2 linked regions of the Homo sapiens genome follow. The protein of the gene in region 2 interacts with the protein of the main gene of each other region in a biochemical or structural test. Each region holds a gene or a part of one and is shown on either strand. Other genes may lie near its edges.

Evidence for each region. Proteins that work in one complex are often made in the same cells at the same time.
Region 1: the proteins of MRAS (region 2) and RAPGEF6 form a complex in vitro, tested with the Homo sapiens proteins (one study listed by BioGRID).

Annotation. Positions count from the first base shown.
Region 1 is NC_000005.10:131,422,854-131,429,789, reverse strand, and holds the end of RAPGEF6 (rap guanine nucleotide exchange factor 6), read left to right. Parts: intron 1-573; coding exon 574-888; intron 889-2,498; coding exon 2,499-2,524; 3' UTR 2,525-5,869; downstream 5,870-6,936. UniProt on the Homo sapiens protein: Guanine nucleotide exchange factor (GEF) for Rap1A, Rap2A and M-Ras GTPases. Does not interact with cAMP.
Region 2 is NC_000003.12:138,351,053-138,359,179, forward strand, and holds part of MRAS (ras-related protein M-Ras isoform 1 precursor), read left to right. Parts: exon of another isoform or gene 1-4,366; intron 4,367-8,127. UniProt on the Homo sapiens protein: Signal transducer in the Ras-MAPK signaling pathway that regulates cell proliferation and survival. Core component of the SHOC2-MRAS-PP1c (SMP) holophosphatase complex that regulates the MAPK pathway activation.

The DNA.
Region 1 (6,936 bases), on a different chromosome or scaffold from region 2:
GAACCACCGCACCTGGCCAGAAGTAAAGTTCTTGAAGGAATTAGTTCCTCCGTACCAGCAAAGTTAAAGTTTATATGCTAGGACTGAGAACTAATCTGCCCAGGAGTGCCAGAAAACATTGGTTCATGTCTCAGAGAGAAGGTGAAACAGCCCTTAAACAGATGGCCCAAATGTCATTTCTATGTAAAGTCTCCCAGTTTACAGAGAATCGGTGTGTAGGGTGAACTTTTAAATGTTTCTGATATCTTTAGGGCTGGTGTGACTTCAGGAGTTGTCATGTACTTCTGTGATATGGGGGCTGAATTGCAGAAGGAAGCTTGTCATCAGTGTCATCTCCTTCAACTCTCTCGTTCTATTTAATGTTTACAGGACTTAATATAGTTGTTTATGTATTTTAAAAAGAGGTTTGTTTATTAAACTTTTAAAAAATGTTTTTGATCTGCCATCATTCAAGTTTATTCATTTTGTCTATTTTTAAGTTGTATTTTGTCATTGTAATAAGTTTGTGGGGTGGTTTCTTTTTTTTTCCATTTCTTTTTCATTAACATTTTCATTGCTTATTTTTCATGCCAGTGTACTGTGTCACCTCACCCAAGAAGGACGATAGGTATAGGGAGCCACCTCCCACTCCTCCAGGATATTTGGGGATTTCTTTAGCGGACCTAAAGGAAGGACCCCACACACACCTAAAACCTCCAGATTATAGTGTGGCAGTGCAGAGGTCAAAGATGATGCATAACAGCCTCTCTAGACTGCCACCAGCTTCTCTCAGTAGCAACCTCGTGGCCTGTGTTCCATCGAAGATTGTAACTCAGCCTCAGAGGCATAATTTGCAGCCATTCCATCCTAAACTAGGAGATGTGACTGATGCAGATAGCGAAGCAGATGGTATGTTGACAAGCTCTCTTAAAGGCTCTTAAATGAATTGCTGAACACATTAAATGGTCTTTACTTTGGTATTTTATGGTAATTAGTAATTGTTTCTTTAAATGCCTTGAATCTCTGTTAAAAAGTAAGAAGTTCCTGCCGGCAGGGTGCAGTGGCTCACACCTGTAATCCCAGCACTTTGGGAGGCTGAGGCGGGCGAATCACCTGAGGTCGGGAGTTCCTGACCAGCCTGTCCAACATGGAGAAACCCCGTCTCTACTAAAAAAATACAAAATCAGCCAGGCATTATGGCGCATGCCTGTAATCCCAGCTACTCGGGAGGCTGAGGCAGGAGAATTGCTTGAACCTGGGAGGCAGAGATTGCAGTGAGCCAAGATCGCACCATTGCACTCCAGCCTGGACAACAAGAACAAAACTCTGTCTCCAAAAAAAAAAAAAAAGTTCCTAAATATAGTATGGGGGAGTGTTTTGGTTTTGTTTTATTTTTCAAGATAGGGTCTAACTCTGTTGCCCAAGCTTAGAGTGCAGTGGCACAATAATGACTCACTACAGCCTCAGACTCCTGGGCTCAAGCAGTCCTCCCAACTCAGCCTCCCAAGTAGCTGGGACTACAGGTGCACACCAGCATGCCTGGCTCATTGTTAAATTTTTCCTTTGTAGAGACAGGGTCTCACTATATTGACCAGGCTGGTTTTGAACTCCTGGCCTGAAGCAGTCCTCCCACCCCAGCCTCCGAAAGTGTTGGGATTATAGGTGTGAGCCACCACACCCAGCCAATGGTGTGGGTTGTTTGTTTGTTGAGACAAGGTCTTGCTGTGTCACTCAGGCTGGAGTGCAGTGGCATGATCGTGGCTCACTGCAGCCTCAACTTCCTGGTCTCAGGTAATTCTCCCTCCTCAGCCTCCCAAGTAGGTGGGACTACAGGCACACACCACCACACCCAGCTAATTTTTTGTATTTGAGACAGCATTTTACCATGTTGCCCAGGCTGGTCTTGAACTCCTGGACTCAAGCAATCTGCCAGCCTCAGTCTCCCACAAAGTTGGGGTTATGGGTGTGAGCCACTGTACCCCGCACTGATGGTGTATTTTTTAAATGAAATGGGCAAGCTGCCTATTTCTGTGTGCCTAGTACCCTGTGGCTCAAATGGAATATTCTTATCTTTGATGAAACAGTGGCTCAATCTAATGGGATACTTTTAACATTAATGGAATTGTATTTTACCTTAATGCATGGAAACTTGAAACTGTGTTTCAAATGCCAAATTATCTGAAATGATTCTATTGATATAGTTCCTTTTATTAGCAAAAGTCTTGACTGACTTTGTACCTGTGCCAATAGTTTGAGAAATGATTGTTTTATTGAAAATAAATGAAAATTTATGCTTTTAAACAAGAGTAATAAAATGATTAAAAACCATGAAATTCCAGTTTATTGTCAACCTTCAATGTGATCAGAAATCATAGGTATTATTATAATAAAATCTGGGCCTCGATGCAATGTTTGAGAGGATTTCTTTGTTGACATTGATTTTCTAAATAGATAACTAGATTATTAGGATCTCATTAATATGCTGATCTGCCAGTTAATTATATATTTTTTATTTTCAGAAAATGAACAAGTTTCAGCAGTCTAGCCTTTGGATGACCTATTTGAAAACCACTGAAAGTCGTGGAGGAATGGGCAAGAACCACCTCATGATTCTGCAGGCCATTGCTAACGAACAGCTCATTGCTACAACCAGTCCAGAGGTTTTATTCCCTCTACTCCGAGCAATGAAATAGACCTGAGTTATGCTTCCTTTCATTTAATTTCTGCAGATAAATAGTTTCCTGAGCAATGGATGCTATGCCTGGATACCAGTCTCCACTTTGCACGCCGGAACTGCCTTGGGACCACAGTTACAGAAAAAATGTAAACTCAGAGTGATCCTTGTGTATATTGCTATAGATTTTTCTTTAACAAGCTATTTTAAAGATAATGGCATTATTATTTCCAAGCCATAGCTTGGGCTGAAGGACAAATTGAAATTGTCTGCCAATACCAAGGATATTCTTGTATATTTGAAAAATAACTTATTATTTGAATTGTTGTGGTTTTGTTTGTATTTGAGAGCTCTTGTTAGCTGATATTCATGTTTGAGGTCATAAAATTGTCTCTGGTCTGACCAAACAGAAGTCATCTTTACAGAGGTGATATGCTTGATCTACACAGAGATGTGACTTGATCTGTAGCACCAATGCAATGTAGGTCTCAGTTTGAGAGAAATAGGAAGCCCTTTGCAGTTGAGGTGTTAGGAACCTGCTGGTCATGGTGTGGAAGGCCAAATGAAGCTGCCACAGGGTTTCTTGTCAGTCCTTTGGGAAATGGGAGGGAGTAGTTTGGGGAGGAGGGTGGGAACCCTAATTTCCACAGAATGAAATTTTGATGTTAAATGACATGTATACAAATTCTTCCTTAAGTGAAAGTTATGCTGCATCGAATTGTAACTGAAAGTATAGATCCAACAAATAGAGACTGGGTTCTAGAGAGTTCTGGTCTATAGAAACCCAAAACTAAAATCTCTCATAACTCAAGTATGGAATACTTTTTTTAAAGAAATTCTTATCATGGGTGTTGTAATAATGAAGACGAATTTGACTTTATGCAGTGTTCTGCAGCATGCCTCCCCCACATCTCATAGCACCAGGTTGTGTCTGACCTGACATACCCTGCAGCTCTCAGCTGGCTGCAGTAACATTTTGTGGGAGAAAGAGGAGCTGGAGTTACAGAAATGATTGTCTCTTGGTTCTCAGTTTTTAGCCCTTGAGAGGACATACTTTTCCAGCCTCATGGGTATGGCACTCTTAATTAAAATTTCAGTGACTGTTTACTGGATGAGGCAGATTTTTCACATTTTTGCAAATTAAATATATTTTATATATATTAAGTTTAATTTTTTCAGTTTTTTTAATGTAAAAGCAAGTGAAATTTTAATAAACTTCTGTAATTACCAAAAAAAAAAAAAAAAAAAAAGCCAAAGCCATTAACGTGCACTACCCAGATCAACTTGGAGCCAAAAGGGGTTTACTTCTGAATGGCTGTCCGTATGTGTCCACATAGGATTTAGTTGGTTTGTGGCCTCCTTTATAGAAATGTGTTGTCTTTCCCTAGCTGTCTCTGCTGTCTGTCTTCCTGCATATCCCCCTTCATTTTAAAATCATGAATCAGTTGTAAGTGGTAAATGGTAGTAGTTCATCTTTCCCATCAACATGATTGTCTCTTTATTTTAGGAATAATAGCATTTCAAAAATTCCTGTGGTAAAGAAACATTAATCTGAAACTTAAGCCTTAGAAATTAATCGCAGGTATGATAGAATGAGGCTTGGTGGTTCCATAGCTTTCTTGGTCCTTTGAAATGGGAAATAACCTGAACCAAAAATCCTAGTTTGAAAGTTACACTTCAGTGATTTGGCCTATAAACAGTGGTCCTATGATTATACATTTTTTCCTTCACTGATTTGCATAATTTTGTTTTCATGGCCACAGCAAAACAATGTGAAATATATTTTTGCTATACCCACTTTTTTTATCAAATTCAGATGTCTACTCTCACCATTTTATATTCATTTCCCCAGAAAAATGTGCTGTTTTCATAATGTCTTTATTTAGCAGGTCTTTCAAACCAAATGGAAGCCTTACCTGTCTTTGTCCTTAATAGTGTAAATATCTTGCACAGAGTGTTGAGGCCTATGGTTTTGGACTTGCACCTTACAGCTGCCTTTGTTTTATCTATCTAGCTTTAACTGTGAGTGTTCAGATCAGCTGATCACATTGATCAGGAGCCAAAGCCAAATGCTTTGTAGTTTGTTATGTATGTATCCCTTAAAAAATCATGAGGTTTTGATTTTTATATTTTAACTAAGGGTACATTCCTGCCTTCTCTTAGTTTGTCATATGACTAGAACAAGAGAAGTCTTAAGCTGCATTTACTCCAATTCCAGATCTCCATTTGTTTTTGTTTTATAAATTTATAATCTTAATGAAGAGACTAGTGCCCTCTCTTCCTGCCACAACTCTCAATCTGCCAAGACTGTTGAAGCAGTTAACGCTCAGTGCAAACTTTTGCCAAATAGTAAGTTTCAACAAAATATCTTTATAGTGAAAGATTTTGAGAATTAGTAAATCCAGTACATGATTCCATAAAAGCTTATTAAAGTTAATAATTCTAATTTACTCCAAATGATTACTTTCAATATGATCTTTGGGGAGAAAAAGCCTTTAGTGAATTTTCTTGAGGGTGATAAATCACATCATTGCGATCTATATCACCTCCTTGAGAATCTCTCCCAGGCTGAAAATGTGATGGTAATCATGGGTGTTTTTAAGAACAAATCTAATTTTTATCAAGTGTTCTTTCCTCTACAAAAAAGGAAGGAGGAGAAAAAGCTTCCTTAAAACTGATTATTTTGATTCAATTTTAAGTTTCTAAAAAAGGTGATATTAAAGTATATGTATTCCTTCAGCATTACCTTAAAGGCTAGAAAAACGGGATAAATCTTCAGAAAAGTGTCAAAAGTGTCACAGTACATGTTCAAATTTAAACTTGAATCCTGGTTCATCTTTGACTTTTGTTGTGCATTTTTAATGCTTCTTTATTTTTGATACACAGAATGCAGTTGAACTTGATCTTTTAAAATTGAGACATGTAAGCTAATCAGCAAAAGACAGAAACAAAACTGCACATCTGTAATAATCAGATAGCAATTCTACTGCACAATTCATTGATTGTAAGGTATCCTGTAACAAGCAATGTTTGTCTCCTATTTTTTGATACCTCTTAAACTTATGTCTTTTAGAAAGACAGTGCCTCTGTATGCTTTTTGTATTTTTACTGAGTGTAAATATTTGTTATATTTTTGGTTAAGAGAATGTAAAAATACCATTTATTATTATCATATCTACTAATACATTGGTGGAATCAATAAAGAATCTACATTAATCTTCTCTGTACTTAATTATAAATGTATGGAACTGATGAAATAATTACAAACTTAGTCATTCGAGAGTGCCAGTCTGGGACCTGTGTTGGTGTGAAGGCCTTATTTTTTAACTATCCAGAAAAATTGGAGTGGTCCATTTGTTGTTGGTTATGTCAAATCTGTGAAACACCATAGCTATTGTTTAGGTTTAAAAAATTGTGTTTGATGGCATACCAAGTTAACAGTGGCTTAAACTCAATTGGGGCTTGTCTTTTTGTTATTGTTGTCTGTTTCTTTTTCTTCTTACAGTAGAAAAGTCTACAGACAAAACTGTCCGGGGCTGATACTGTAACTCCTCCACGATGCTGTCAAGGATGGCAAAAGTAGGGGTGAAAAGGATAGGCTTAGGTAAGGAAAAGGTGCAAATATGTGTCTCTTTCTACGCAAAGAGAACAAAACAGTAGTTTCCAGAAGCTCCACTTGCATGTTTGTACTTACATCCCATTAGTTAGACCTCTGTTGCATGACTGGTAGCTCCAAGGGTGCCTTGGAAATTATCTATTTTATCTGAGCAATTGATGTTCCTAACAAATTTAGGACTCTTCAGTGAAGAAGGAAAGAATAGATTTCAAATGGGCAGCCAGCTGGGTCTACGAAAGCATGCCTATTGCCCCCTCTTTTGGGCAGTATATGTAAATACAGCCACTTTTATGGGATTAGATCCCAGGACCCTGGCAAAGTAGAAGGAAATTCTACTTTAGCTCCTTTTTTAAAATCTCCTCACAGTTTTCCCTCGGTACCCAGAGAATGTTACTCCCATTATAGCTAAGACTTCTACCTTCTTCCAGTTCACCCCCTCTTCACCAGGTTTTCCCAGGCCATTCTGTCCCCCTGACCATCTCTCCACAGTCTCACTAGTTTCTTTATTTAGAAAATATATTTCTTCACCGGGCATGGTGGCTCACGCCTGTTATCCCAGCACTTTGGGAGGCCGAGGCAGGCGGATCACGAGGTCAGGAGTTCAGGACCAGCCTGGCCAACATGGTGAAACCCCGTTTCTACTAAAAATACAAAAACTAGCGGGGCA
Region 2 (8,127 bases):
TTAGGCTCCTGGGATGACTGGTCCTAACCTCAGTCAGAATCACATGTTGACCAGCCTCCTGGATCTAGTGAGTTCTCAGGGAAATGTGGCTTCCATAATATATTTCACATCAGATTTAACCATTGTAATCTGTTCTGCCAATGAAATGCCCCCAAACAGAGTGTGTCTCCCTGAAAGCAATTGAAAAACATACCTGCTCATGAGCATTGTGTAGTTTGTACAAGCATACTCATGTGAACTGAATGGGAATGCATTCTTGTGCAATGCTGGAATGTTCTTAAGTGTCCAGAGGATGTGCATTGAGTTCCAGAGGCTCTGTACCTGCCAGGCCCTGGGCAGGCATAGAAGGTACAGTCACCTTTATCTGGAGACAGGTAAAAAAGGAGCTGGAGGAGTTCCCTGAGACCTGGGACACCTGGCAGGTACCCATTGTCTAGGGACTCAGCAGAGAATTCAAGCTTTAAGAGGAATTTTCTTGCTGGACTCTGAGTCCCTGTCAGCCCTCCTAAGTCTTAGATCATGCCTCTGAGCCCTGTAGTACTGAATCAATGGGGATGCTTTGGCTGCAAGTAACAAAACCCAAATAACAGTAAGTAAGATTAAGCAGAGCTCAGATCTCCCAAAGATGCTCTCTGCTCTTGGAAGGTCTCTGTACACAGGAATGGGATATCAGTGCCACTTCCAGCAAGTTCCTGCATGGGACAGGTAGCCATAAAGGCTGAGTGTCTGGAGTTCAGAGTAATAGGTTTTGTCTTCTTGAGTCACAGCCTCTTTAATATGTTGATGAGAAGCCCAGGGAACGTTGATGTACAAAGTTGGACATATAATTCAGGGGATTCATGGATCTCTGAAAACCAGCCCTGGATCCCAGTTTAGCCATCTCTGATCTAAAGGCACGTGACTTCTCTAATGTTCATGGCAGACCTATTCTGTAAGCCCATTGTGCAGCCAAGTCAGCATGCCATTCCAGTGCAGTGTGAGAGGGCAGAGATGGGGGCCAAGAGTACAAATAGAGTGGGACAGTTGTCATTGCCCAGCCTGTGAGTTGAAGTCTGTGCAGTCAGCCAGTGGGTCTGACAAAGAGGGCAGTGCTGGCACTGCCTCATGCTTCCGCAGAGGTGATGAGGTTCAGGCTGAGGTGGAGACCACGCTGCACTCGCCATGCATTCAATGGTGCCCCATCTCTTGTTCTCTAGGAAGCATTCCCGCTACCTGTGTGATGCAGTTGGTTCCACCTATTCCCAGAGACTCCACCCTGGCCCTCCTTGCCCTGGCCCCCAGCACTGAGCCCCTAGGGCCATTTAGCTGGCCAGCATGATCTAAGACAGCTTTCTGCAGGCATTCCTCTTGTAGGAGTCATGAAGCAGCAATGTGTATTTTGCTTCTTTTTGTTGTTGTTATATTAAAAAATATTTTTATATTCTAGTCCAATCCTTATTATTTGATTTTTTTGGTTATATGTTATATATAAAAATGTATTTTTTGTATTTTGCTTCTTAATGTCCCTATCATTGTCTTTAATATTCTTGGTAGCTTCACTAGGTGGGGACTGCTGCATGACAATGTGGGTCATCACCGGTTGCTGAAGTGACCTTCTGAGTCTCAGAGGGGTATAGTCCTCGCATCAGGCTACCTTGACGGATAAAACAATATGATTTACATATGGGTTGTAGTGCTAGTAAGATTTTGGAGAGCACCAATAATGAATTCGGCTGTGCAGCTTGTAGTGGCCAAGCAAAGGAGGGTGGGTGGAGAGTTGGGAGCTCTGGTTCTGGCCTCTGTGACCATCTGTAGGGCCTTGTCTGGATCCTGTGCTGCCTGGGCCCAGGCTGCATCTGTGACTTCTCTGCCCAGCCCTCAGTGTCGTCATGGGGATTAGATAAAATATACACGTGAAAATACGCTTGGGAGGCCAGAAAGGGCTGGAAGAATGAAGACCACTACCAGTATTCAAGCAACCTTCGGAGGACAGAATCCTAGACCCAGAAGGAGCCCCCTGAGTGTATTAAGTCGAGTCACACCCCGTAGAGCACATTTCTCATAGTGGTGAGGAAGATGATTTTAGGTGGGACACAGCATCTTTCATTTTAATAGTTATATGCTGGTTTATTTGAATGTATTATAAAAATACAGGCATCAGAACAAACTGGGAGTTTTTTAATGGATATTTTGCCCAGATTAAGGCTAAAGAAGTATTTTAAGTAAAAAAAAAGAAAATTTTTAAAAGTATGGTGGTTTTCAGATTAAGCTAGTTATAGTACAATAGTAGACAAATATGGCCCAAATGGGAAAGTGAGCCCTTGAGGAAAGGCTGGGAAACTTTCCACAAGGGGAGTCCTTCCTTCCCTGACAGCCCATTAGGGGTGTGTCTTTGACTTCACCTGGACCCTTCTAGAGACACAGTGTCTCTACCCTTTGAGTCAGTCCACTGCATTTGCGGATTCTCTCATTGTTGGGAAGTTCTTTCCCTTCTTCCCTTAACCTGTCCCACATGAACCTTTGACAGTCCTGCTTTTCTCCACCATGAGCAGCTTTACTTTCTTCAACTGCTCTTCAAATGTCATAGTTTAAAAACAGCCCCTCTGTATGTCCGTCCTTTCTTCCATCCATCCTTGCAGCCACCCACCTACCCGTCCATTCATTGATCCATCTCTCCATCCATCTTTCCTTCAGCAAAGACTTGTGGGCTGGACCCTGTACTGTATACTTTATATTCGCTATCTCTAAGCCTCACAAAAATTGTGTTAGATGTAGTTAACCTTTTATAGATGTGGAAACCGAGGCTCAAGGAAGTTAAGTAGGTCACCTGCAGTCATAACCTGAGAGAAGCAGAGTCAGAAAGGAATCTGGCCATGGTCTGTCTCTTCCTGAAGTGCATGCTCCTTCCGTTAGACCGTGCTGTTCCCAGCACTGGGTGACCAAAAATGTCATGATCCCTTCTCTCCTGGTGCTTAGGGGACCTATCCCATGGAGGTGTGGCTCTACATAATCAGTGCAGTGGGCAAAGGCCTCATGAGGAGCAGGGATGGAGCAGCCTGTGCACAAAGATGTGGTGAGGCAGCAGAGGTGCAGAAGACGCTGGCTGGCAAAGAGAGGCAGCGAGTCCCTCGCTGGCAGGAGTCTTCCCTGACTGTCATTAATCTTACAGTCACAAATGAACCCCTAAATCATTTGTGCACTTTTTTTTTTAATTTTGAAAAAGAAAAGTGTAAAGGGTAGTATAACAAATACCATGTACCTATTACCCAAGATGAACAGATGTGACCATTTTGTCTGCACTTGATCCTTTTCACAGTAGGGCTGGACTTAAAACCAGACCACTCATCCTTTGCCCTGGCCAGTTTGGCCCATCCTCAGCCTGCAATGGGCTTTTGGGAGCCTTGCTCCTGAGTTTTCATGTATTGGCTCTCTCTTGGGGCTTCATGTCCTCAGTTAATGCCAGTGGGCCTCCCTAGAAGTTGTTGACTAAAGAGGCTTTTGCTGCTTCTGACCACATTGTGGAGAAGCCACTCTGGGGAGAGTGTGTGTTTTTGGCTATGATCTTTTTCAGAGAAGTTCATCTACCCTCACAAACACCTGCCTTGACCATTGTGGGTTTAGCCAAGCTGTAGAGCATGGTTTAGTCATAGCTGCCTAAACTGAACTGTAATATTAATGATAGGTTTGTATGTTTGGAAGACAGAGAAAACATATTCTCTTTTTATAATTATATGACAATGATAACAAAATGCTTTTTGTTGTTGTTAGCAGTGAAGTCTCACTCTGTTGCTTAGGTTGGAGTGTGGTGGAGCAATCATAGCTTATCACAGCCTCGAACTCCTGGGCTCAAGCCATCCTCCTGCCTCAGCCTCCTCAGTAGCTGAGACTATAGGCATGTGCCACCATGCCCATCTAATTTAAAAAAATTTTTTTTGTAGAGATGGGGTCTCCCTTTGTTGTTCAGGCTCATCTTGAACTCCTGGTGTCAAGCGATCCTCCCACCTCGACCTCCCAAAGTGCTGGGATTATAGGCATGAGCCCCCACACCTGGACACAAAATACATTATATACTCTAAAGTATAGGATTACTTTAAGAGAAGGAAACTAAAAGTATGATGGCTTACTTTGTAATCCATAACTTCACAGTTTTCCCTTCCTGCAGCTTTCACAGAAAAAACCAGGTGCCTGGTACTGGGTCCTTCTCTCTGCCAAGCAGGAGTAAGGCGGCAGAGCCAACCCTGCATCTGCAGTTAGAAGCTCTCCATGACGACAGGACGCAGCTTCTCACCCAACTGTTTGCAGCCTTCTCCTTTCCACCTACTGATTGACTCCTGAGCTGAAGCCTGGTGTTATCCTGTTTGCATGTAGTTTGCCATGAGTTAGAACAGTGAGTAAAGCTCTGCTTTTTAAAGCTGTGCAGAAAGATTCAAAAACTTCTGGAAAGGCTTTCTTATCCAGGGCAGATTCTTGTCAGTCCTTATTGGGGACCGAGATTTCATCTGGTTTCATAATAGATAGTGGGGACCTGCGGGAGACCCCAAGTCCTCTTCATTAAGTGCTGAGAATGTCTTGAAACATTTTCCTTCCCTGAGTTGCCCTTAAAGAATAACACCACCAGGCTGGATGCAGTGGCTCACGCCTGTAATTCCAACACTTTGGGAGATTGAGGCAGGAGGATCACTTGTGGTCAGGAGTTCAAGACCAACCTGGCCAACATGGTGAAACTCCGTCTCTACTAAAAATATAAAACTTAGCTGGGCGTGGTGGTGTGTGCCTGTAGTCTGAGCTACTCCAGAGGCCAAGGCAGGAGAATTGCTTGAACCCGGGAGGCAGAGGTTGCAGAGAGCTGAGATCGCGCCACTGTGCTTCAGCCTGGCGACAGAGAGACTCTGTCTCAAAGAATAAAAATAAAAAATAGCACCACCAGATCCTTTTCCCTCATTCTGATGGAGATGCTGCAAAAGCCAGCGAAGGCTGGGTGCTGAGAGACCTCAGAAGGCCCTGCTTTACTGGGGCTTATCTTGCAATGGAAGCCGTACCAGTGAAGGCAGTTGAACATATTATACAACCAGTGCCTATGAGATTATGTGGAAATCCACATATGTGTTATACTTACAGGCATACCTTTTTAAAGACAAGTTTGGGTTTAAAAAGAAACTACTTGGCATACTGTATATTAGGCTGGCCCTAGTATACCAAGTACACAGATTAAATGTAAAAGTATTTGTGGGCATGTGGATCTGTGGGGAGATTGCTGGAGTGTAGTGGATTCAGGAGACTCCCCCACCCCTTTAGGAGCTGACCATTTATGGGGGGTGTTGGCGGCAGATTCTTGCCTCTCAAAAGCATTATGTATTCATTTCAAAAGCAAAATTAATTTTGGTTCAGTTTAGCTTTTTTTCCTGATCCTTTAGAATTTCAACGTGCCTTCTTGAAAATTCTCCCTTTTTAGATAACCCACAAATTCATTTCTTTATATTTTCACTCCACTGGAAATGGAGGCTCAAGGAGGAGACAGGCAAAGCCGTCTTTCTTGGCCAACACTGCTCTCACCAGTCTATCATGGTCTTCTTTCAATGTCTGCTTTATTATAACCAGAGATGATAGAAGGAGGGTGGGATCACTGTCCCGAAGACTTGGGGGCGTATATTTTTAAAAACTTCTATGAGCTATGCCTCCTTAGCCTTCCCTCTCCACCCACATTCCTCAGGTTGAGGTTCCTGGGGCAGAGCTGGAAGGCCTAGTCTGTCTCATGCTCCTGCTGAGGAAGTCCAGCCCAGGAGAGGCCAGGTGCCCTGGCACTCCCAAGCAATTAAGGCCAGCTGGCATCATAGCCTTCCCATCCACCCCTACTCACTGACCCCGTCCCCCCGTCCCACCCACCGCAGTGGACAGCTGCCTGAATCCACTAATCTGGGGCTGGGTGGGTGTTTCCTGCATGTTTGAGATTTTAGGAGGAAATCAAAATAAAGAAACAAAGCCTTTGTTTTATTTCTGGACTCCCAACTGGGTATGGCTGGAGGGATGGAAAGCAGGGAACAGGAGGAGCAGGTCACTTGGCACTTCAACAAAATAACCATTCTAATAGAGCATTTAACAGGAACTTTTTCTATTTAGGGTTGGGGTGGGTAAATAGGAAAGACGGCAGGGCTGGGAGAGCCCCTTTGTGTGGAAGGAGAAGGTGGGGCCGCCCTTGCCCCAAGCGGGGCCTCTGGCAGTGCCTGGTGTTCAGGCAGGGAGGGGTCTGAGGCCACCCAGCCGGGCTGCAGAATTGGCAGCCTGGGGACTCAGGGACTTTCAGTCCTCCCTTCCTGAAGGAACCCTCTGCTCCAGTTCTGTCCCACTACTTGTCTGTGTGAATCTCCACCTCTATAGCCTCCTCTTCCATATCTGTAATGGGAGTATCCCAGCCACACTCTGGCCTTTCTTCTCTAGTCCAGTTATACTGGGTCAGGCTCTCACCTGACATGTGGAAATGAAGAGGTACATCCCCCAGTATTTCTTAATTCTTCCAAAGGATTTTCTCCTTGTAGAAATTCTCTGAGGGTTTCATTTATTTTCTTTAAAAATTGCCCAAGTATTGATGACAGCCCTCCCCATCTGCAGTATTTCTGAAGATTTCAGGGTATGGGCCATGCCCACTGGCCGCCTGGCCTCCACTCCACTTTGCCCCATGTGCATACAGTAAGGTTGGCTTCTTCATCTGCTAAGCCACTATTATTGCATGTAACAGGCATCCACCAAGGGCTTTTAAGAAAGGGAGTTGTCTGCAGCCCAGATCAGGGCAGAAGTTAAAAATGAATGTCAGACACCCTCCCCTTGCTTGCTCACACCCTTGGAGAATGTCTCTGTGGCTGTCTCCTCAAACCTAGTTTACTGCTATTTTCCAGGGACCAATTTTCCTGGATACTTTCCCCCAGACCTTCTGAAAACTCCAAATTTTCATTACTTTTGATTGCAGAACAAGGATAACAATCTGTCTTAGACTAGGCTGTGGGCTGCCCTTGTCAGATGTAAAGGGGTCTGGGCATGGTGGCTCACGCCTGTAATCCCAGCACTTTGGGAGGCTGAGGTGGGTGGATCACTTGAGGTCAGGAGTTCGAGACCAGCCTGGCCAACATGGTGAAACCCCATCTCTACTAAAAAAATACAAAAATTAGTGAGGCCTGGTGGCATGTTCCTGTAGTAACAGCTACTTGGAAGGCTGAGGCAGGAGAGTCGCTTGAATCCAGGAGGCAGAGTCTGCACTGAGCCAAGATTGTGCCATTGCACTCCAGCCTGGGCGACAGAACAAGACTCTCTCAAAAAAAAAAACAAAGATATAAAGGGGCCATTAAATAACTCATCTAAAAAAGAATTAGGCACTCTAGACCTTACCTTTACCTACAGTAAGAACCAGCAGAAGTGCTGGGATTATTAAGCTATCATTATTACTAGCCAGGTCAAATCAGTCCTCTCCTAATGACCAGGGCAAAGCCAGGTGTTATTTTTTCCCTTTCCTGTTAGAACATTTTGTAACATAAGGATTAGAGATGATGTAGATTGACAATATTTATTGAGTACCTTCTCTGTGCCAGATATGTGCTGGGCATTGGAGATACAGTGGAGAATAGAACAGAGGGTGGGCCCTGCCCACATGGAGGTGACGGTCTAGTGGGGAAGATGCATTACATGTTTACGTCTTGTAAACAACTAACTAGCAGTTAAGTGCCAGCATACAGGATGCTGTCAAGGCAGACAGCTGGGTGCTTTGGGAGACCCTGATAGTAATCTCATATAGTCTGGGGTGCAGTGGGGGTCAGAGAAGTATATTTAAGGTGCTTAGCATGTGGTCAGGGCTTAATAAACGGTCATTATAATGACCATCCCTGGCCACAGGGCCCAGCCTGGTTCCGCCTCCAGCTGGTGGCTGCTACCACCCACCAACAATAGTTTTACACAGAGAGGTTTTTCATTAGGCCAAGGTTATACAGCTAGCAGAGGGGCTTTGATTCATGACTTTTTATAAAAGTGCTGTATGTAGAAAGCAGAGGGGTGGGAAGCTTCCCTCGACCCCCCAGCCAATACTGACCTTTGGACAGGCCTTGCCTCGCAGGAATGGAGCAGCAAGCTGGTTACTGAGGAGAAAAAATGCAGCAGTCATTTAGG